Linked DNA regions of Homo sapiens. The protein of the gene in region 1 purifies or fractionates together with the protein of each later gene. This does not show direct contact. Each region holds a gene or a part of one and is shown in the gene's direction. Other genes may lie near its edges. The genes, in order: LRRTM3, NRXN3, ADCY9, PEX11B, CEBPZ, TMED8 and RRP1.

Region 1 (3,500 bases):
GTTGTATTCTCCTAGCTACCTACACTAAAAATCAGAGGCAGTTGGGGGAAACAATGAGCACAACAGAATATATAGGTAAATTTGAATGACACAAGTTTTAAGAGAAATAAAATGGATGGATGTTAAATAGTTTGTATCAAATAGCTCTAATTAAAAATGAATTAAAGAAATAATAATAATACATAGGTGAAAGTCACTGCTTTCCTAATCATAATAGCCTACAGAATTGGACCCAAATTCTTTTAGCCTCCAAAAGTTGGTGATGATTTTGGATACTTAATACTACCAATAAAATCTAAATAACAATAATTTATGATTCTTTTGCATTTGAGGGAAATATCACAGCCAGGCATGGTAGAATACGGGCCTTAGAAATTAAGACCTAAATTCAAGTTCCTTTGACACTTGCTAATCAAGTCATCACAGGTACATTTCCTGGCTTTTCTGAATTTGAAGTTTCTCATATGTAACACAGATGTGTACTATTGACTGCTCATGGTAATTGGGAGGACGAAATGTGAAAAGTACTTTGTAAACTCTAAAATGGCAACTACCTCTTCTTTTCAAAAAGCCCTTAGTGAGATACTGAGTGGGGTTTGTTGTTCTATGTTTGGCATGAGCCAAAAAGAAATCAGTAACCTCCATGTTACAGAACCCCAAGCCCATTTTACATCATTAGAAGTCTAGAACATCGTCTTTGACTTTCTGTTTTCACATAGGCACAGCTTCTTCCACCTCATGTTATCTAAGTCTATGATTTTTATACTGATTATCACAATGTACAACAGACATAAAGACACCGACCAGCGAACACTAAAACAAATAATTATCAAACACATTGAAAATTCTACTTGTATTTCAGATCAGGCAACTATAGCAAGGGCTTTCAATCAGGACGTTTACCTGTCCACTCCCTTTCTAGTATCATTGTGTTCAATCCTTGTTGACTTTACACTGGATCAATATAATGTTTATATGGCAACATGACATCATTATTGAGCAAAAAGTAATTGCATATAACATGTTACTGTAGGATTAGCACGCATTCCAGGTATCAGTCACATGATATCTGCTCTGATGTTTCTCCCCTGGCCACTCCAGTGGAAGACTGTGCCCAAGATCTCCTCTTAGTATAGAAATTACTATTGACTTTATCAATTATAATTATTGAAAAATCACTGGATAAAAAGGGGTATAAATGTACAGGGACTTCCTTTTATATGTCATTGCTTATGCAAAATTACATCATTAATTCATCAAAGAATGACAAAAGGCTTCCTCCGCTGGATGTAGCTGCTCTTACCAATATGAAGTAGCAGGTGTATTTTCAAAATGTTTGTCATTTAAGAAGACACAGACTGTTCCTCTTTGACAGCTGAGTTCCTATGGCATATCTAAAGATCAGAGAGAGGATGATGGTTTTTCAGGTGGGGAAGCAGTTGTGAGTTTTCTGACATTTTAACTTCATAGGGTCATGAATGGACGCTCTTGAGTTAGGGATCCTGAACACGTGAGGAAAATTCCAGGAACACAGAGAGAACAGGAATATCTGGGACATGATATAAGACCAAGCAAGTACAATGTATTTTACAATTATACTTTCTAACAACAGAACTTCTATAAGCAATAATAATCCATTTTATTGAAAAAAAAGAAAAACAGCTTCTATCTTATCCTTTCCAGCAAATGTTGTAATGATAATTAATAACTTTATTAACAATTCTCCATGTTTTCTTTTTATTTTTAAGGGCTCTCACTTCTCCCAATCAGGATTCTCATTTATCCTTTCTCTCACTCTTAAATTGTTCTCCTTATTTGAAAGAGTCTGTAATTCCTATATCACCAAAAAATGTCTTCCTTTATAAACCAACACAATTCAGTCATTTGGCTCAAAAGAGCAGCATTATCTCCAAAAGAAAAGTTACACACTTGCATTAAATATTAGGACATAAAACAAATTTAAAGCTGGCTGACACTTCTCTTTCCTCTACAATCTATAAAACACCTCTACAGTATATTATGATTTGCAATTGAAAAAACAGGATATATAGTTGAATTACAGTCTTACAAAGTATTAAAGCTTACTGTTTTCCTCCTTAATTAGCTAATTCCTAGAAAACAAAGTATAGGACTTTATGTATAGGGGTACTCAACTATATTTCACCAATCAGAAACACTCTTTCCAACAATCAGAATTTTGTCTTCTCAAGGGTAAAATATAGTTTTTTTGGCCTGGCATATAAAATAGTAAGGCAAATACTACATTTAGCAAAGGCAATTTTTGTTGACATTTCATCACATCAATTACATCTATGCAGGGTGGAAAATACATTTTGTCAGTAAGGAGGCAATGACTTCAATTAAATGTAAATCCTTAGTCAGCATTCTTGGTGCTAAAGCTTATTAATGAAGTGGGAGCAGAATGAAAATGTCATCAGACAGTGAAGCTACAGTATCATGAGGCTATGCTACCTTGAGTGGTGTTCATAGCTTCAACTGGGTGGCCCTCATGTAGCTAAAAAAGTGCTCCTTGTCATTAATATTGATCTATGTACTTTCTAAAAGAAAGAATATGCTTACCAACAGAGCCCTCATATTGACTGTCTTCCTATAAGTTTCCCTCATTAATATTTGATGCAGTCAACCAGAATCTCACAAGAGCTTTAAAGGAAACTTGTAGAATGCATCATGTTGATATTGAAAAAGTAGAGTAGCTTTTAAAATTCTGATAAATGTGTGACAAGATTACAACAGTGAAACCTCTCTAAGGTACAACAGTGAAAATAGTTATAACGGTGAAAACTCTAGGAAGTTTACCATAGTGAAAACTCTCCAAGAAGTTTAAAATTCAGCGCTTTGAGATTAGTGTTGGCATGTACTTGTCAATTTATGAAAGGGATTTTGCCTAATGTATTCAAAATTTTAATGTGAAAGGTATAAATACTTGGTTTGTGTACTGGCACCAATAGAGGGTTAGGTAACATCACTGAATTATGATTAAAATGGAATATTTAAAGATCTTTCTAATATGGCAGAGGACATATTACATACGTATTTGTATTTCCACCAAGGTACGTATGTTGTACATGCCTAAAAAAATATATATATATTTTCCTATTAGGTGAATATTTTTCCTATAATGTGAAGATATTTTGGTATAATTGAGTCCTTATTATGTACCAGGAATTTGTATATATTATCTAATGATTTGATAAAAAGTGTTTTATGCGTTTCGTAAACTCAGATAGTTTTCCTTAAAATATAAGAACAGAGCCCTTTATATTGAGTCTGTCTTCCTGTAAGTTTCACTCATTAATCCTATACATTTTCACTTCTTTATAGGACTGCTCTAAAATAATTTATACCCCACCCACAAAAGGCTTCTCAAAGCCAAATCATGCATCTCCAGATCCCTTTAGGAAATAATTTCCGATGATTTACCATTAGAACATCCCTCTGCTAGTTAAAGTCTAATCTGCCAGTATAGTGTTCCTTCCAGC
Region 2 (3,500 bases), on another chromosome or scaffold:
GCGTGGCTGTGGCTGTGGTTCTGCACAGAGCAGGTGGGGAAGGTGAAGATATTAACAATGGAGAGTCCCAGTTGAGCATCACTGGGCTACAAGTCCCTTGCCCTCCTGTCCTTTTCCTCTTGGTAGATAAACCTTCACAGAACCTCAATTCAGGACCCTATCCATTTCCAACAGAACCCCAACACCATGGGAGATGAAGATATAGGATTATTTCTTCCTAGGTTTGTGTGCCGGTTTAGAATTGTCTGTGTCCTACTATGTCTAACATCCCACTTGATCTTGACAACAGCCCTGTGAGCTGGGAAAGAGGGACAGTTTGTGGAACAGATATCGAGGCTCTTACCTTTGGAATAAATAAAATGGGACTCAGAAGGGTTATTCAGCTGTCAGTGAGAGTGGTGTTGGCTTTTTATTCACAACAGTGAAAACTCCATATAAATAGACAGGTAATTTCAGGGCCATGGAGTAGATAGAGCACTCACCCTCAAAGAGCCTTTGAGAGAAGTCTGGTTATCTCTGTCTGGCCAGTTTCTGGCCCTTGCTTCTCTTACCTATGTCTTCAGAAATCTTCATTCCGGCTATTCACCTTCTCTCCCAGTCTCAGTTAGGTACCCTTCTCACAGAAGAGTTCCTCTTCACTGCTCTTGTATCTTGTTAAAAGGCTTTTTTTTCCCTCCTTTTTATTCTGTCCCCAGCCTGCTGTAGCAATGCCTGATCTCTCTTTCTATTTATTGTTCCATGGAGCCAAACCTCCTTCTGTCCCTTTGGGATGACCTATTGTTATACATTAATAATTAACCTTTACTAGGAACTCTAGTCACAGGCATTTAACCCAAATGCAGAAAAAGCCAAAGTTTGTTTATGACAAAGAGTTCTCACATGCTAAGGTATAATAGTGAAGGTTAGAAAGGAGAAGCTGACACTCATTAAACTTTTATGATTTCTTTTCTGGTTTACTCACTTGAGTGATTGCCTGAGGATCCTGCAATATTTCCCTTTGCACATGGTCAGCCCAGTTTAGCTAAAATGAAAAATTCAGCTTTTGAATTGTGAAGTTGAGCATGCATGACTTTCCATGTAATGTTAAAGATAAGCCTCACAGGTGCTGCTAGTGGGGCCTGGTTCTGAGCATATGGACCCTGGGGCCCAAATGCCTAGGTTCAAGTCCTGCTCTGCCACTTATCAGCTGTGTGCCTGTGGGCCGGTTCCCTAACTGCTCTCTGTGTCTGTTTCTGCATCTGTAAAATAAGGCAATGATTACAGGTATCTCAAATGGGTGTTGTCTGTATCTAATGGGATGGAGAGGTGTTAAATCCTTACCATGGTGCCTGGTGGTAGGTGCTTAATAAGTGTTAGTATCATTATTTTCAATGTTATTGACTATGGTTAGGTCCACGGTCAAGGTTACATAATAGTGAGTCATTTTCAATGCTTCGCCATAGTTATATATCACTCTTGTAATATCCATTAGAATGCAAACAGCTTTGCTTGATTCTCTCCTGGTGATGAGAGATGGGAACTAATTCTACATTTAAATATTGGGGATTATATGATATGTGCTGGAGTGACCCATCCAATTAACTTTGTCTCACAGATATGGACAGATGAGGCTTATTTTAGAAATTAGCCATTGTTGTTTTGGAGATGATAATGCAACCTTTTCAGGGCTGTGGAAATAGCGAAATGAGATTAACAATAACCCTCCAAATAGCTGCGACTTTTGTGCCCTTATGATATTGCATTCCTAAGTGCTTCACATGTTTTAAATCATTTTATTATTACAAAATAAATAGTTTGTTTATTCCTATGTTCCCAATTTCAGGAGAGGAAACAGACTCAGAAAATTTACTTTGCCAAAGTCACATAGCTTGTAAGTAGTAAATGTGGAATTCAAACCTAAATCTGGGTCCTGACTTAGAATTTGAATAAGGTAATATAAAGAAAATAGGAAAATAGTTGGGACGCTCAATACTCAGATCCTTGTCTATTTCCCTTCCATTGTTTTCTGCTTATTAAGTTTTTATGGATACGACATTGCTCAGAGATCAGAGCGCCAAAAACCATTCCAGGGTACTGTATCAAATTTCAGTTCAAATAAGAGTAAAACTTTTTTGAAATTCTAATTTCATGGAGAAAGATTAATTTCTGCTTTTAGATGGATTATACCTGGTTTAGAAAGTCATAACAGATTTTTTTCCCATAGGTTATTGGGGTTCAGGTGGTGTTTGGTTACATGAATAAGTTCTTAAGTGGTTATTTGTGCGATTTTGGTGCACTCATCACCCAAGCAGTATACACTGCACCCTATTTGTAGTCTTTTATTCCTCACCCTCATCACACCCTTCCCCTCAAGTCCCCAAAGTCCATGTATCATTCTTATGCCTTTGCGTCTTCATAGCTTAGCTCCCACATATCAGTGAGAACATACAATGTTCGGTTTTCCATTCCTGAGTTACTTCACTTAGAATAATAGTTTCCAGTCTTATCCAGGTCACTGCAAATGCCATTAATTCATTCCTTTTTATGGCTGAGTAGTATTCATATATATATATCACATTTTCTTGATCCACTTGTTGATTGATGAACGTTTGGGTTGGTTCCACAATTTTGCAATTGGAAATTGTGCTGCTATACACATGCCTGTGCAAGTATCTTTTTCTTATAATGACTTCTTTTCCTCTGGGTAGATACCCAGTAGTGGGATTGCTGGATCAAATGGTAGTTCTACTTTTAGTTCTTTAAGGGATCTCCACACTGTTTTCCATAGTGGCTGTTAGACAGTCATAACAGATTTTTTTAACTGCCATCCTCACGTTCTCCACCTACCTACCCACTCTGCAGGACAGTGGCCATGGCTTTGCAGAAGTGTACACTAACCTTGGGTAGGGCATGGAGGCAGAAAGCTCTGCTGGACCCCCTTGCAAGGTGAATTAGTATCTGGTTCAGTATTCTTTGTAAAATCAGACTCTCAACTAAATCAATGTCCTTGACTGACTGGCTGAAATAGGGCTTCAGGGTGTCTCATTCTACCACTGTACAGAGGGCACATGCAATGTGCAAAAAATAAAAACAAAAACAGACCTCTGTCCCCACCAGCTTTTAACACTTACTCTTTTCTTTCAAGTAATATATCCACATGGTTGAAAAAAAGTCTAACACTGTAAGAGGGCACAGTGAAAAGTAAGTCACCCTCCCACTCCAGAATATTAATCCCGCAAATATACTCCCCAATGACAATTTTATAGTTCCAAAGAGACTTTATGCTTACTGGAGCATATATACATATAATGCCCCCACGCCCCCACACTTTTACACAATGATAACATAATGCACCCTCTATCCTGTTCCTTGACAATTTCACTTAACAATGTGACCTGGAGAGCTTCCACATCAAAACCAAAAGCAATACCTTGTTTGCAAGGCCTGCCTAATATTCCATTATAACGCTGTGCCATCTGCTATTGATGGTCATTTAGGTTGTTTCTGGTATTTTACTAAGG
Region 3 (3,500 bases), on another chromosome or scaffold:
CAGGACAAGGAAGGCCATGGGTAGCGTGGGAAGGAGTTTGCATTTGACCCCATAGGTGTCAGGGAACCACTCAACAGGGGGCTTAGGTGATCTGACTTGCAGTTTTAGAAAGTTCACTCTTTCAGAGCTAGTGAGTGTGGGTTGGAAAGAGATTAATGAGGTGTCGAGTAAATCCCAGGTAGGGGTGATGGTGGCCCAATCCAAAGTTACAGTAGCAGTGATGGAGGTGATGGGATCTGAGTGGCATTAGGAAGAGCAGCTTGATGGGACTGCAAGCCAGATTTAAACAAACGACTGGCAGGAGGGGAAGGGCTTGACCATGTGAATGGGAAATGGCATTTTAAGTTTCTGGAAGTGACTTGGCGACAATGTGGAGTCAGGAATGGGTGAGGGGCCTTTGAAGTTGCTATGGTATGAATGGAGAATGCAGGATGGACTTGCAGAGTACAGAGGCCCGGAACCCCTGGCTTGCTTACTCATTCAGCAAATCATTTACTCCGTGCCAGGCACGGTTCTGGGTTCTGGCAATACAGCCGTAAACAAAACAGACAACAATTCCTGCTCTTGTAATAGGGGACAAGAATTTTTAAGTCAATAATATAGGAGGATCGCTGGAGCCCACGAGGTCGAGGTTGCAGAGAGCCGTGATTGCACCACTGCATTCCAGCCTGGGCGACAGAGTGAGACCCTGTCTCTAAGAAACAAAAACCAGGCCTTCAAATAGGGGAGATCTAATAGAGGGGACAACAGGGGAGTCAAACCATAAATAAGTAAAATAGAAAAAGTGTTTTGTGAACAAACATAAAGCAGGAAGGGGATACAGCAGATGGGGTGTACGAGTGTGAGAAATCTTATCTAGGGTGGCCAGTCACTGGGAGAAGGTTGCAGGAATTTTTAGCATACTGCTAGGATTTTGGAAATAATCTAAAAAGTGAGGGGCCAGGCATGGTGGCTCATGCCTGTAATCTCAACACTTTGGGAGGCCGAGGTAGGCGGATCACCTGAGGTCAGGAGTTTGAGACCAGCCTGGCCAACGTGGTGAAACCCCATATTTACTAAAAATACAAAAATTAACCAGGTGTGGTGGCAGGTACCTGTAATCCCAGCTACTCGGGATGCTGAGGCAGGAGAATTGCTTGAACCTGGGAGACGGAGGTTGCAGTGAGCCAAGATTGCACCATTGCACTCCAGCCTGGGCGACAAGAATGAGACCCTGTCTCAAAAAAAAAAAAAAAAGTGTGAGGGACAGTTATTAAAGATATGGAGAAATGGGCCGGGCGTGGTGGCTCATGCCTGTAATCCCAGCACTTTGGGAGACCGAGGTGGGCAGATCAGGAGGTCAGGAGTTTGAGACCAGCCTGACCAACATGGTGAAACCCTGTCTCTACTGAAAATGCAAAAATTGGCTGGGTGTGGTCGCAGGCGCCTTTAGTCCCAGCCACTTGGGAAGCTGAGGCAGGAGAATCGTTCGAACCCAGGAGGTGGAGTTTGCAGTGAGCCGAGATCGTGCCATTGCACTCCAGCCTGGGCGATAGGGCGAGACTTTGTCGCCAAAAAAAAAAAAAAAAAAAAAAAAAAAAAATGAAGAAACGGTCTGATTAAGGTGAGGGACCTTCCACAGCATTTGGGATGAAACCGCTAGGCCTGAGGGAACCGTGGCTGTTGTATTCTGCCTTGGGCCACAAGCAAAAAATGGTGAGACGTGTTATCTCGAGCTGTTGGCTTTTCCTGTCATAGATACAGGGTCACAAAGACAGAAAATGAAACTGTTAGAAAATATCTACAGGCATCTTCTTTTCCCGTGTAAATATTAGGAAGACAGAATGAAGATGCTCCTCCGCTCTCATCCACACCCATGGTCATATCTCTGAAGAGGGGAATACCAGGGAGTGATCACATTGTCAGATGCAGAAATTAAAAAAGCTTTTTTCCCCAGCCAAACTTTATGCTTGTGGAGCAACTTGGGGAGGAGACCCGCTGGTATGCATTTGGGCAGATTGTCACCTGTTGGCCACCTCTGTGATCGAGACCTTTGCCTTAGAGGAGTTCCTATGTAGACCCTGTCTGGTGGGCCGACAGACCGACAGTGGACGGAGGCATTCTGTATGCGTTAGCCTCTGCAAACAAACACCTGTCTCATGCCGGAAATCTGGGCGCCCCATTAACCCTGAGCACGGGCCTGCCAGCTGACAGAACCCTAGCCAGGTGTTGGTTTGGGGTTCAGTTGCATGCTCAGGTGTTCCCCTTCCTTCCCCCGTTAGCTTGTCCCCACCTAAGCCTGCAACCCTTGCCACTGGGATGCTAACCCGTTAGCAGAGCTCAGTCTCCTTGCTTGGAAATTCTGTGTTGACCTGCACTGCATTCTTTTTTTTTTTTTTTTTTTTTTTTTTTTGAGACAGAGTCTGGCTGTGTCACCCAGGCTGGAATGCCATGGCGTGATCTCAGCTTACTGCAACCTCTGCCTCCCAGGTTCAAGCGGTTCTCCTGCCTCAGCCTCCCAAATAGCTGGGATTACAGGTGTGCGCCACCACGCCCGGCTAATTTTTGTATTTTTAGTAGAGATGGGGTTTCACCATGTAGGCCAGGCCGGTCTTGAACTCCTGACCTCAGGTGATCCACCAGCCTCAGCCTCCCAAAGGGCTGGGATTACAGGCGTGAGCCACCACGCCCAGCCTTGACCTGCATTCTTGAGCAGGATCTGTTATGCACGTGGAAATACAGCCTCTCAGATAGCAAATGGCAGAGATGAGATGAGGCACACAGTTCCCCTCCACAGCTGGGGTGGGAGACAGAAAACAGCAGTAGAGTCGACACTCAAGCTGCCCCCAGTGACCATTTGTTCAGGCTCTTTGAGACCTGGCTTACAGTGACAAGGACACAGCTGTTAATTCTGAAGACAAGCTTTCGAGTAGAAGTAACCTCTGGTAAAGCAAGAGAAGGTTAAGGTTTGCTGAATTGCCAATGGGATGAAGAAGGAAGGGAGGGCTGTCTTTTCAGGTAGAATGCCTAAGGAAGGGAAACATGGAGAAGGAACAATTAGAGCAAGTCAAGAAGTTTCAAGATTTTTGTCTTCTGGCCAGCTTGGTGAGATAGTAATTATGTTTCTGCATATTGGTCAGCGTTGCCTATGTACTTTGCTGTGGAATAGTAATCTTGGAAAAAAACCAACCAACCAACCCACATTAATCTGTCCATGTCTGGGCACAGAGTGTGCAGAAGCCTGCGTGGGCCGTAAGTCTCGTCTTTGTCTTGGTTGGTGATTTTAGTATTGGTGTTTTTGCTGGAATTCCAAAACTGTAAGAGTGTAATCATTCACCATTAGAATTCTGCAGGTCCCCTCCTGACTCTGGACTAGCTGAGCTTAGGGGCCTGTCATCCATCTGGCCCTGGGCATATCATTTGTACTTTGCCTGTGACACACCTCAAGACCTTTTCCAACAGGAACTAGCATCCCTGGAGGGAATTTTGTGAAGAGATGAGAGTTTTTGAAACAGGAAGGG
Region 4 (2,434 bases), on another chromosome or scaffold:
AGGTTGCAGTGAGCCGAGATCGTGCTATTGCACTCCAGCCTAGGTGACAAGAGCAAGACTCCATCTCAAAAAAAAAAAAAAAAGAAAAGAAAAGAAAAGAAAATGGATTGCAGTGGGTCAAGAGAGGAGGAGATGCCCTAATACGAGCAAGAGATGACGTTGGCTTGGACAAAGGAGGTAGCTGACAATAAAGGTAGAGAGAAATATGATGTGGGAGTAAAATTCTCTAACATATTATCTGTATTGTTTTTCGTTTTCCTATGATTGTACTTTTTCATTATATTAACCTTGCTTTTCCCTTCATCTTTCTCAGTGATTTACAACTTTAACATGGCTTATGATGTATGAGGGGTGGGAGCAGAGGCATGGCTGGAGCAGTATGGAAAAGCAACTCCCTAAAGGAGTCTATATGTTATATTTATTCATTTCATCCAACAGATACTTACTGAGCTCTTACTATATGGTAGGCACCAGTGTACATACAGGGATACAGTGGTTAAAGATAAACAAGGCCGGCCAGGTGCGGTGGCTCATGCCTGTAATCCCAGCACTTTGGGAGGCCAAGGCGGGCGGATCACCTGAGGTCAGGAGTTTTGAGACCAGCCTGACCGGCATGGAGAAACCCCGTCTCTACTAAAAATACAAAATTAGCCGGGTGTGGTGGCGCATGCCTGTAATCCCAGCTACTCGGGAGGTTGAGGCAGGAGAATCGCTTGAACCCGGGAGGCAGAGTTTGTGGTGAGCCGAGATCGTGCCATTGTACTCTAGCCTGGGCAACAACAGTGAAATACCGTCTCAAAAAAAAAGAAAAGACAAACAAGGCCTCTGCTCCTCTGGAACTTACCTTGTAATGGGATGAGATAAACATAAATAAACAATAAATTAAAATATCAGATACTGGTAAATGTTATGCAGGAAATTAAAACAGTGTTATGGAGTAGAGAGTAACTGACTCAGTGCTTTAGATTTAGGGATAAGGGAAGGCGTCTCCGAAGAGGTGATACTTAAGCTCATACCTGAAGAGCAAGAAAGAGCTAGCTATGTGAGGGTTTTGGAGGGAGAATATTCCAGGTGGAGGGAGAATATTCCAGGTAGAGGGAATAGGTAGTGCAAAGGTCCTAAGGCAAGAACAAGCTTGATGGGATTAAAATGTAGAAGGAAACCAACATGGTTGGAGCATAATGATTGCAGGAAAGAATGATACAAGGTAAAGTTAGAGGGGTAGGGACCAGATGTTGAGTCTGTAAGCCTCTCTAAGGTATTTATATTTTATTATGAATGTGACAGGAAGAAAACCATGGAGAGCTGTGGTTTGTTTATTTGTTTTTGGTTTTTTTTTTTTTTGAGATGGAGTCTTGCTCTGTCGCCCAGGCTGGAGCGCAATGGTGCAATCTCAGCTCACTGCAACGTCCATCTCTTGGGTTCAAGTGATTCTGCTGCCTCAGCCTCCTGAGTAGCTGGGATTACAGGCACGCGCCACCACACCCAGCTAATTTTTGTATTTTTAGTAGAGACAGGGTTTCACCACGTTGGTCAGGCTAGTCTCCAACTCCTGACCTCATGATCCACTTGCCTCCACCTCCCGAAGTGCTGGGATTATAGGCGTGAGCCACCACGCCTGGCCAACCATGGAGAGTTTTAAGAAGGGAAGTAATGATGTGATTTATGTTTATGCTAGCTATTATATGAAAATAGATTGTTGGGGGTGGGGGCAACAATGGCCACAGTGAGACCAGTTAAAACATTAAAGCAGAAGTCCAGACAAGAGATGTTAGTGGCTTAGAGTATGGCAGTGCGGTGTGATAGAGAGATGTGGTTGGTTGGGTTCAGGATATACTTTGAAGGTAGTACAAGTTATTGAGTACAGACCACCATTGTCAGATTGGATTACAAATAAAAAACATGGATTTTTTACTGAAGAAATTTATAATTTAACACATTTGGCAATTACTTAAACCTCTGGGCCTCTAAAGGAATAGGGATTGGATTTAGATCACCTTTAATATGTTTGAGTCTCTGAGACATCTGAAATTTGTTCTTTCAAAACAAGTTTGCCTTGTTATAGGTCAAGTTGAGAGAGAGATGGAGAGTGTGTGTGTGTGTGTGTGTGTGTGTGTGTGTGTGTTGCCAAGTGGAAAATGAAATTTGAGATTGACCTTGGAAGATTTCATGATGCTCATGGAGTTTAAACCAGGATCTTAAGGTGCACATAAACATGTATTAGTTACAGAATGTTGGGAGGACTTTGTTTCTTCATTTTTATTGGGACATAATTGACAAATAGAAATTACATATATTTAAGGAGTTATAGCTCGATGTTTGTACATGTACGTTGTGACATGATCACCACAGTCAAGCTAATTAACATATCCATCACCTCACATAATTACCTTTTTTCTTTTATGGTAAGAACACTTAAGATCTACCTTCCTGG
Region 5 (3,500 bases), on another chromosome or scaffold:
ACGGGGTTTCACCGTGTTAGCCAGGATGGTCTCGATCTCCTGACCTCGTGATCCGCCCGCCTCGGCCTCCCAAAATGCTGGGATTACAGGCATGAGCCACCTCGCCTGGCTGCATAATTATTTTTCATAAATATGCTACTTACTAGTATGTAGTAGCTTTATGGTTTTTGTTTTTGTTTTTTGTTTTTTTTTTTTGAGACAGAGTCTTGCTCTGTTGCCTAGGCCAGAGTGCAGTGGCGCGATCTCGGCTCACTCCAAGTTCCGCCTCCCAGGTTCACACCATTCTCCTGCCTCAGCCTCCCGAGTAGCTGGGACTACAGGCACCCGCCACCACGCCCGGCTAATTTTTTGTATTTTTAGTAGAGATGGGGTTTCACCATGTTAGCCAGGATGGTCTCGATCTCCTGACCTCGTGATCCGCCCACCTCAGCCTCCCAAGGTGCTGGGATTACAGGCATGAGCCACCGCGCCTGGCCGCTTTATTGTTATTTTTAATGGACCTATAAGTATTTACAATTTTTCTGTTTATTTTTATAACATAGGTGTCTGTAGATATAAACCTGTTGAATAGAAACTGATGGAATTTTTGGTTTTTAAGTGTAGGAAATGGTCCTGAGACCAATATGTTTTGAGAATCACTTTTTTAATGTATTGGCTTAAATTTCAAATTTTTGCATTTTCATTTTTGTTGTTGTTGAAATAGGGTCTCACTCTGTCACCCAGGCTGGAGTGCAGTGGTGCCATGTCAGCTCACTGCAGCCTCGACCTCCTGGGCCCAGGCAGTCCTCCCACTTTAGCCTCCTGAGTAGCTGGGAGTACAGGCACGCGCGCACCATCACACCCTGACTATTTTTGTACTTTTTGTAGACATGGGGTTTCGCCATATTGCCCAGGCCAGTCTCAACTTCTGGGCTCAAGCAATCTGCCTGCCTGAGCCTCCCAAAGTGCTGGAATTACAGGTGTGAGCCACCACACCCAGCCCGATTTTCTTAAATAAGCTATAAATGTACTAAGAGTCGACCTTAGAAATATTGATATTATTCACATTTTTCTTTTTAGTTATCTGTGCATTTTCATCCCTCCGTGGCCCTTTTTGCAAAGACCATCCTTCAGGTGAGTCTAAAATAAATCCAAAGATGAGAAATAAGAAAAAAAGTATCATTTTAGATAATCAATAATTGGTCATACAGTGTTTTCTCTAACAGAGAGAATCTTGTACATTTTACTGCTCGTATAAAGAAGCAGTGACTTGTTTCATACAGAGTAGCAGATAACTTTTCCCACTCTGAGATGAGTGGAAGCAATAAGACATTGAAAGCCACGCAGTTATTTATTTATTACCTTCTAGCTCCTCTCCTGGAGAAATACTGCCTCACTTTCCCATTTGCTGTGTTTGCCACTTCAGGGTTTGGTTCCTGATTAATGGTTAGATGGCCTGCATTATTAATATTAGTCTATCCATCAAATCAACATTACATCCTAGAATATGTATGTATATGTATCTGTGTGTTTAATTTTTTAAGTATAATGTGCATGAGAGAGATATTTGAAGAGTCATTTATTGCATATTTGTATCTTCAATACAGTGTAATAGAAATTATCTTTTTCTTCCTTTTTCTTACTTGGATTCATAGACATAATTTGAATTAAGTTTTTAAATCCCCGCTCCACTTTTCAGGGAAACTATATTCAGTATTCAGGGGACCCACTGCAGGATTTCACTCTAATGAGATTTTTGGATCGATTTGTATACCGAAATCCAAAGCCCCATAAAGGCAAAGGTATGCTTCTATTTAGTGAATTATTTGGCTTTCATTTTTAATACATAATAAACAATATGAGCTTATAACTAGGTTTTGCATTATACTGTCATAATTTTACATTTCAGAAAACACAGATAGTGTTGTGATGCAGCCGAAAAGAAAACATTTTATTAAGGATATTCGTCATCTTCCTGGTAAGTATAAACCTTAGACAGTTGAAACTGAAAAGACAATATAAGACAAAGATGCATAAATTGTATTATTCTTTGTTCTAATTTATCAGAATAAAACCTGAGCATCAAAGACATTATCCATCTTTTTTCCCAAGAATAGGTATTCTTAAATCTACTGTATCTGACTGGGCCTTTTTTTTTTTTTTTTTAACTTTATTACAGCAAATTTGAAACATATCCAAAATAAACAAAATAGTATGATGAACCCCCTCCCCATTACCATCACCCAGCTTTGACAGTTGTCACCATTTTATCATCCGTAGCTTCATCCACAACCCCTATGTATATAATTATTATTGCTTACAATTCAGACCATCTTAAAGCTCTCTAATATCAGCTTAGCAGCACAAAAACCCACAGCTGGTTTTGTCACAGAGCATCATTTTAAACTTAATAACCTACTTCTATATTTGCTAGCCATCTTCTGGATCTGAGTCTGTTGTTGTATTCAAAGCAGACATTTCTTTGCATACCAGATCTCATCTCCCTTTTGTTCAGAGACCAGGATTAAATTAGACCTTATAGATCATTTAATTTCCAGTGACTTACTTCACAGAGGTCCAGAGATGTAAAAGGACTTACCCACAGTTAGTAAGTTAGAATTAAAAGCCAAATCTCCTTTTACTCAGGATGAGTCAGCAATTTTTATTCTGAAGAGGTAAAACTGATTTCTTGTAGTTCCTTATTTCTTAGTTTTCCTCAGTATAAAGGAAAACTCTGTTAACTTCCTGTTTATTCCCAGAATGGCACGCATTAATGGCAAGCTTGTCATTTTTTGAGCTGAAAATGACAAGTTTAAAGTGATTATTTATTAAAATAACTCTTTGAATTTTTTATTTCTCTTGAAAGTTGGGTCCTGGATGCAAATGAAGAACAGTAAGAGAACCCTGTTGTTTCACTGTAACGGCACTGACAGCTATGTACTGCCTACTTTATGCTGTAGCCAGTGAAGTTTCAAATGTTGGGGGGGTCTTCACACAGACTTTTTCAGAGATTGTCCCTTGCACTCCAGAGTCCCTTCTGTCTACCTTCCCACACAATTCTGAGATTTTTAGAATTACAGATTATGCTGTATTTTGTCTTAAGAGCTTGAGTAACATAAAGGGGATTGCTATATGAAGTTAAAATGTTTAAATTTATTTTTGTAGTGAACAGTAAGGAGTTCCTTGCAAAAGAAGAAAGCCAAATACCAGTGGATGAAGTGTTTTTCCACAGGTACTATACATAATATAGTTTCATTTGGGGAAACTGCTAAAATTTAAATTTTTAGATTTCATAAAATGCTTCATTTTATGAAATAATCTACTTCAATAATCTACTACTGTGTGTAAATAGACCATGGAACATTAGTGGGAGAAGTGGCCTTAGTTTTAAATGCTTCATTTTATGAAATCTAATCAGCATATTTTGAAAAGATCAAAGGATATGTCTGTGTTTGTTAAGAAAATTTACAAATCCGTCATTTTGCTAATCTTAATATATCTTAGTAAAACTAAAGTAAATT
Region 6 (3,500 bases), on another chromosome or scaffold:
CTAAGCATTAGTCTTATTCCTCTTATTCCTTGATTTTCTTATATAATCTTAAAGTCAGTCCTTTAACGTGCTTCTTCATAGAACAGCAAGCGGGCAGGGAAACCTACAGGTATCTGGGAAAGCGGAGAACCTTGTATCTTATTTGCTGCTTTTCAGGAATCCTAGGGTCACTTTATAGCACGTTTATCTGCAATTCCTATCTTCGTTAGCTAGTCCTTTCACCTACTAAATGATAGAATATCGGGATCTTTTCTTCTAAATATCTCTTTCTCCCTCTCAGAAATGTCCAGACACTTCTGAAGCTAGGAAGGCTCCTCTCAGGCTAAATCATTTTCTCAGTGGAGACATTATTGGCATTTGGGATGGGACATTGTTTGTTGTGTAGGTACTATCCTGATTTTAGCACTCCTGGACCCTTGGGTACTAAATGCAGATATCACCTAATAGTCACTGTGATGACCAAAAGATCACCAGACATTTCCAAATGTCTGTAGGAGGGCAATAATCTCCCCGCTCTGTGAAAGCCACTGGGTCACCTGGTCCTTCCGCTCACCTTCAGGCAGGACTTACGCAGTCTCTGAACACTTTGCCATTTTGCTCACGCAGAACCCGTTCCAGCTGGAGATGTGGAGAGAGGCTCCAGGAGCTCCTTGCGGGGTCGCTATGGGGAGGTCATGCCTGTGTACCGGCGGGACAGCCACCGAGACGTGCAGGCTGGCAGCCATGACTACCCTGGTGAGGGCATCTACCTGCTCAAGTTCGACAACTCCTACTCCCTGCTGCGCAACAAGACTCTCTACTTCCACATCTACTACACCAGCTGAAGGACTGCTGGGACAGGGGCAGGCTGTATTTGCTGGCTGAAGCAGGCTGCCAGCTGGTGCCTCTTGTTTGGGATAGGCAAGAGCCAAAGGTTCATGGGGGGCTGCTGAGCCTCACACCCTGTCTGGCATGCCTGACTGTTGGCCCACGTAGCTTTTTCCCCTTCTTGGCTTCTGCAGGTGGTGGTGTAGTGCCCCTGTTCTGTAGTCCCTGACTCATACCCTTCTTGCTTCAGACTCCAGCAAATTCCCTCTTGAAGGCACCTATGGGGCACAAGCCTAAAAGGAAGCAGGGCGATGTTTTTTAAAAATAGATTCATCTTGGCACAGGTTTATCATTCAGATTGCTGCCCTCTCCTCTCCCACAGCCCTTATTGCCAGTGCATTTAGTGGCACCCACTCTCTTCAGTTGTTGAGGTGCCAGAAGAGGGAAAAGCACATTGCCCATGAAGGAGCCCCATCTTTTGGTTGGAGAAAGCTCTATCCAGCCTGTCACCACTGCCATATTCCTGCCTGCTGGTTATTCTTGGTCTCTGCATAGCTGGGAGACCACACTGCCTTTGGAGGGCTATTACTATTCCTGATGGTAGACACCCCCTCCTTTCTCTTTCCTAAGTCTATGTTTTTGCCATTACAGCAAGAACATTCATGCAATCTCAAGTGATGATCAATGTAACCTAAGATCTTGTGGGAAGAAAAACTGCCCCCATTATTTCCTATTCCAAGAGCTGGTTTCCCTTACTATGGGCACTGGCAGTCAAAGTGGAGAGAGTGGAAATTAGGTACTGAATTGATGTCAGAACCCACATATTTGAAAGTCGTGTTACTTTTTTTTTTTTTTTTGGTATAATCAAAGAAGGAATGGTATCATCTGACAGAGAAGATGAAAAACAAAAAACACTCCAGAGTCCCCACCGCTTTTTTTTGTCTTTAGAGTAGGAGTGCTGTTTAGAAATGTTGCTTTGGAATCAAATGCAGTGAAACCCAATCAGGTTTCCAAAGTTTCTGCATTTAGCTTTCTTGCATTGAGGGCTTAAAGCTTTTGGTGTTCAAAGTCCCTTAGTTTAGGTGATAATGAAGCTTCACTATTGCTGCTGATTGTATTTGTTCTTTACCTGACCAAAGCTTGCATTTCCCTGGTGACAGCATTTCCTACTGTGTCACCCCTGAGGCTCAGGAGTGCCACAGAGTGCAGGTAGTGCTGCAGCCAGTGGTCACCAGAGCACCAGCTGCTGGGCCCCCAGGCGGAGGAGGAGACGGAGGTGAGATGGGACCTCAGCAGTCTCTGTGTTTGTACCTCCCTGTCTCTTACTCCTCGTGTTATGTCTGTTACTGCCTACGAATTCTGAAGAATAATTAGATTTATTTATTACTGTATTTATTTTTTTAGCACATTTCATTTTGCCTTTGAAACAGTTTCCATCTGTTTCTCAGAAGGCTTCCCATCTGTTCTGAGCCACTGAAGCCCCCTCTTTTATGGAGTTAAAGATGATATTTTTAGGAGAATTTGGGAAGCGATGATGTTTTATTTCTGTAGGTCAGTCCTGTGACGGCTTTGCGAGGAGTATGGCCCTTCAGAGATGGATGATGCCACCTTACTCCATGTTTGGGGTACAGTCCAGCACTCCCCATGAAAAATTCTAAGTTGTGAGGGAATCTGCCCATTTGCTGGAGATTGAGTGCAGAGGAATTCCCTAACCAATCAGAGATATCCCGTGATTCCAGGATTTCAGAGTCCTTTGTCTCCTCTGAGGTGTCACCTTCTTTGTGATGTTTCCTTTGACTCATTGTTAGATTCCTCACACCAAGGGTCTATCCCTACAGTAGCATAACTCAAGGAACGGGACTCTTCCCAGTGGGTCCCTAGTAGCATCTACATCACATCAAAGGGCAATATATCCTGCACCTGCTCTTCCCCTCGGAGCAAAGCCCCAAGTGGGATAGGATGTTGGGGACTGCCAGAGCATTCCCATTCTCTGAGCAGCATCATACCTCCATTATTTTATATTTGCAAATGTGTTTTGTAGAGGATTACACTGGCCAACATTTATATACCTTTAAAGAAATTATTTTAGTGACTGTCTGTTGAGGCAGTGAAGAGCTGATTTGCTGTGTGTCATCCCATTGGATAGCTGAGTGACCGCTCTTGCATCATTGAAGTTGAATCATGCCTTAGCTAACTGAATATAATCTTTGTAAAATAATTTTCTACTGAGCTGTTTTCTAGTCAGCTAAAGCCTTGCTTATTTTTCCTGTTTATTATTAACTTCTGCCTTTCTCTCAAATTGAAACAGTCAGGCCATACACAGCAAGCTCCCAAGGATAACACTTGTTATTATTTATTTTCACCATGAGATTCTCTGCTTATTTTCTTTGGAATCCTAGTTCTGTTGCATCAGGGAAGCCTAAGGGACTTGTTCCCCTCACCTCTGTGTGCCTCTTAGGGTCTGGTCACTTTTGAAGTCCTGGGCATGGTTACATTTCATTCATACTGGTTTTTCACCAACTGTCAGGGTTTCTGTGTTCCATTAGCACAAAATAGCTAAAAGAAGATATTTTCACTGTCTAATTCACTATTTTCATGTTACATTTCTGAAATAATTGAACTTTAGGGGCAAGATACTACTTACTGAAGCACAGGTAATTACTGAGAACCCACAGCCCAGCAAATTCTAAGAG
Region 7 (3,108 bases), on another chromosome or scaffold:
CTGCAGGGCTGAACCTGAGGCTGGTGAGGAGCAGGCAGGTGACGACAGGGACAGTGGCGGCCCCGTTCTCCAGGTGGGTTCCCTGGGCTCATGGCTGTGCCCTCAGCCTTTGCCCCTCTGTGCTACCGCTTGCTCTGGAAGAGGAGGGGGGCGTTAGGAGGGAGGATGGCAGCTGTTGGCATGGAGAGTTACCCGGACAGGGGTTAGCTTTGAAGGAGGGATGGGTGCCCCAACCCTGCCCGCCTGTAGACGAGTGGGATCATTGAGAGTGGGGCTGGGGCCTGGGAAAGTGGGGCTGGGGCCTGGGAGGGTGGGCTCAGGCAGAACTGCATTATCCAGGGCTGGCCTCACCTCACGCTGTCCTCTTGCCTCACACATGGGCAGCCCCCCAGATTTCCTGCGGCCCCCTCGTTGGGGTGCTGGTGGGGAATGAGATGGCATGTGCCAAGCGGCTGGCCTGTGGGTCCCAGCGAGGAATCCACTCAGCCAGTGGGGTCTGACTTCAGGCAAATTGGAAACTTAAATGTTTTAAGTTTTAAATATGATTATCTGCAGACTGAATAAAATGTGGCTATCTTGGGTTAAAATTGATCAATTTAACCTATGTTGTTCGTGCTTGTCTGTGTGGTTCCTAGAGTGGTAAAGCTGCAGGCAGGCTACCGGCGGGCGTGTGCCCTGCAGTGTGCCCCGCAGTGTGCATCTTCCAGAGTGTGCCCCGCAGTGCGTGCCCCGCAGTGCGCCCGCAGCTTGTGTGGTGCCCGCTGTGCTGTAGAGTGGGTGGAGCTGCAGGACCCTCAGTGAGGGTGGGCTGTGTTCCTGTGAGCCGGGTGGAGAACCTGCAAGTGGGACCAAGTGCTATCTGGGTCTCAGGGGTTCCACGTTCTCGGAGCACGCAGAGCGTGGCTGACCTTGCCTCTGTGACGTCTCTCTTTTGAAACAGTTTGACTACGAGGCAGTTGCTAACAGACTGTTTGAAATGGCCAGCCGCCAGAGCACCCCTTCTCAGAACAGAAAGCGTCTCTACAAAGTGATCCGGAAGTGAGTGTGTGAGGGCGCTGCGTCCTCCCTGCTCCCCTTGGAGTTGCCCTTTCTTGCTCAGATCTGGGTGCCTTTGCCTTGTCCTGGGCCCTTCCGCAGCCCCCGGGGTGATCCCCGCTAGGACCCTGAGACCGTCCCCAGCCCCTGGGGTTCCCCTGGCTAGGAACCTGCAGCCGCTCTAGCTGGAGCTTCCTCCTCCTGCGGAAGCCGCAGCTGTGGTAAGTGGGTATCTGTCTTACTCTTTCAGGCTGCAGGACCTGGCAGGAGGTGAGGATCGGCCGGGCACTGACAGTGGCACCACCTTGGAGGTGGAGCTCCATCCTCGTGGGAGTGGTTTGGTTCTAGGGGTCTCATAGCACGTGGAGTCTCTTTGCAGAGAGGCCTGGTGGTGTTTCTGAGGGACAGGGAGGCAGGGCGCAGGGTTCCACAGCTCTCGTTTTTGTGGTTTTTGCTGAGTGGTTCTCAGACTTGAGTGTCCATTGGAGTGCCCCAGAGCCTGAGAGATGGGGTGCTGGCCTCAGGGGCTCCCAAGCACTGACCGCGGTGCTGCTGCTGGTCTGTTGGGCAGCACACGTCTGTTCTTGGCAGCGCGTGGCGGATGGAACTGGCATAGGTTATCGGAAGGACGGTTTCCTAGTGGGCGTCGATGGTTAGAGACGTAGGCGTTTCCCCTGGTGTTTCCTTATGAAAAGTTTCAGACCTGCAACTCAGTTGGAAGGATTTTATAGTGGATGTCTGCGTGTCCCTGCCGGCCTCCAGCATCAGCACTTCCTGTCCTTGCGTGAAGCTCCTCTATCCCAGCATCACACCCCTGCATCCGCCAGCGGGCGCGTCATCAGCTGTAGTCCAGGGTTTGGTTTTTTTATTTTTTATTTTTTGAGGCGGTGTCTCGCTCTGTTGCCCAGGATGGCGTGCAGTGGTGTGATGCAGCTCACTGCAGCCTCGATCTCCTGGTCTCAAGCGATCCTCCCGCCTCAGCCTCCCAGTCGCTGGGACCACAGGCGCACGCCACCACGCCGGCTAATTGTTGTATTTTTTGTAGAGACAGGGTTTCGCTGTGTTGCCCGGCTGGTCGTCTGGGGTTTTCGGGACAGCGCGCGTCAGTGAGGTGCGTGAGGATCGTGTGCATCTGGCAGGTTTTGATGCAGAAAGTTGCCTTGGGCCGCCAGCATGAGCATTGTAGGCTGTAGACTTTGGTGTACAGGTTGAGCGTCTCTAATCTGAAACCCCAAATCCAAAATGCCACCAAGTCCAAAGCTGAGTGCTGACAGGAAGCTCCAGGGAAATGCTCGTCGCAGTGTTTTCTGTTTGGGGTTTTCAGGTGAGGGCTGTTGAACTGGTGAATATGATGCAGACGTTCCAAAACAACCTGACATTCAAAGCACTGCTGGTCCCAGGCATTTGGGGTCGTGGACGCTCTATGCTGTACCTGTGTCCTGGATGCTCCAGGAACTGGCTTTTCCAGATGGGCTTGGGTCTCAGCTGGTTCGTTTCAGCTGTGGCGGGTACTGAACACGCTGCTCCTGGGCATTAGAACAGGGCGCTTTCTCACACACATTGTCAGGAGGTGGTGCTGGCTGGGGCCTGCTGGAAGCAGCGAGCCTCAAACCATAAGTCCCCAGCCCCCGAGAGCCCCCTGACTTCTGCCCTGGTTCTCAGGCATTTTCCCTGAAGATGAGATCCCAGAGAAGGCCTGCAGGCGCCTGCTTGAAGGGAGGCGGCAGAAGAAGACGAAGAAGCAGAAGCGTCTGCTCAGGTTGCAGCAGGAGAGAGGTAGGACTAGGGGGTGTGTTAGTCATGGAGCCGGCGTCCTCACCTGCTTGCTTCTCCCCTGGATGGGGGTCACCTGCAGTGTCTCCCCCTGAAGCATGAGTGCCGAGTCCCCCATCCTGGGTGCCTGCTATCCACGCATCCCGGAAATGCCCTGTCCTCGGCATCCCTCCTGTAGGCCTCTCCCTGCCTCCCCCACCCACCTTCCTTGTCTGCAGCTCCCCCGAGCTGTGTGCGCTGCCCTCCCTCCCGGTCTGGAGACATCCTCCTGGCTGGGCTGCCTCCTTCCGTGCCTCCGTC

What was found.
Region 2: the proteins of LRRTM3 (region 1) and NRXN3 purify together in Homo sapiens (affinity purification with mass spectrometry; one large-scale study listed by BioGRID and IntAct). This does not show direct contact.
Region 3: the proteins of LRRTM3 (region 1) and ADCY9 purify together in Homo sapiens (affinity purification with mass spectrometry; one large-scale study listed by BioGRID and IntAct). This does not show direct contact.
Region 4: the proteins of LRRTM3 (region 1) and PEX11B purify together in Homo sapiens (co-immunoprecipitation; one large-scale study listed by IntAct). This does not show direct contact.
Region 5: the proteins of LRRTM3 (region 1) and CEBPZ purify together in Homo sapiens (affinity purification with mass spectrometry; one large-scale study listed by BioGRID and IntAct). This does not show direct contact.
Region 6: the proteins of LRRTM3 (region 1) and TMED8 purify together in Homo sapiens (affinity purification with mass spectrometry; one large-scale study listed by BioGRID and IntAct). This does not show direct contact.
Region 7: the proteins of LRRTM3 (region 1) and RRP1 purify together in Homo sapiens (co-immunoprecipitation; one large-scale study listed by IntAct). This does not show direct contact.

Annotation. Positions count from the first base shown.
Region 1 is NC_000010.11:66,932,536-66,936,035, forward strand, and holds part of LRRTM3 (leucine-rich repeat transmembrane neuronal protein 3 precursor), read left to right. Parts: intron 1-3,500. UniProt on the Homo sapiens protein: Exhibits a limited synaptogenic activity in vitro, restricted to excitatory presynaptic differentiation. May play a role in the development and maintenance of the vertebrate nervous system.
Region 2 is NC_000014.9:78,705,373-78,708,872, forward strand, and holds part of NRXN3 (neurexin 3), read left to right. Parts: intron 1-3,409; exon of another isoform or gene 3,410-3,500. UniProt on the Homo sapiens protein: Neuronal cell surface protein that may be involved in cell recognition and cell adhesion. May mediate intracellular signaling. Functions as part of a trans-synaptic complex by binding to cerebellins and postsynaptic GRID1.
Region 3 is NC_000016.10:4,106,443-4,109,942, reverse strand, and holds part of ADCY9 (adenylate cyclase type 9), read left to right. Parts: intron 1-3,500. UniProt on the Homo sapiens protein: Adenylyl cyclase that catalyzes the formation of the signaling molecule cAMP in response to activation of G protein-coupled receptors.
Region 4 is NC_000001.11:145,913,284-145,915,717, reverse strand, and holds part of PEX11B (peroxisomal membrane protein 11B), read left to right. Parts: intron 1-2,434. UniProt on the Homo sapiens protein: Involved in peroxisomal proliferation. May regulate peroxisome division by recruiting the dynamin-related GTPase DNM1L to the peroxisomal membrane. Promotes membrane protrusion and elongation on the peroxisomal surface.
Region 5 is NC_000002.12:37,214,597-37,218,096, reverse strand, and holds part of CEBPZ (CCAAT/enhancer-binding protein zeta), read left to right. Parts: intron 1-1,059; coding exon 1,060-1,113; intron 1,114-1,678; coding exon 1,679-1,781; intron 1,782-1,888; coding exon 1,889-1,957; exon of another isoform or gene 1,958-2,776; intron 2,777-3,144; coding exon 3,145-3,211; intron 3,212-3,500. UniProt on the Homo sapiens protein: Stimulates transcription from the HSP70 promoter.
Region 6 is NC_000014.9:77,339,095-77,342,594, reverse strand, and holds part of TMED8 (protein TMED8), read left to right. Parts: intron 1-606; coding exon 607-824; 3' UTR 825-3,500.
Region 7 is NC_000021.9:43,799,577-43,802,684, forward strand, and holds part of RRP1 (ribosomal RNA processing protein 1 homolog A), read left to right. Parts: coding exon 1-73; intron 74-940; coding exon 941-1,038; intron 1,039-1,285; coding exon 1,286-1,305; intron 1,306-2,697; coding exon 2,698-2,811; intron 2,812-3,108. UniProt on the Homo sapiens protein: Plays a critical role in the generation of 28S rRNA.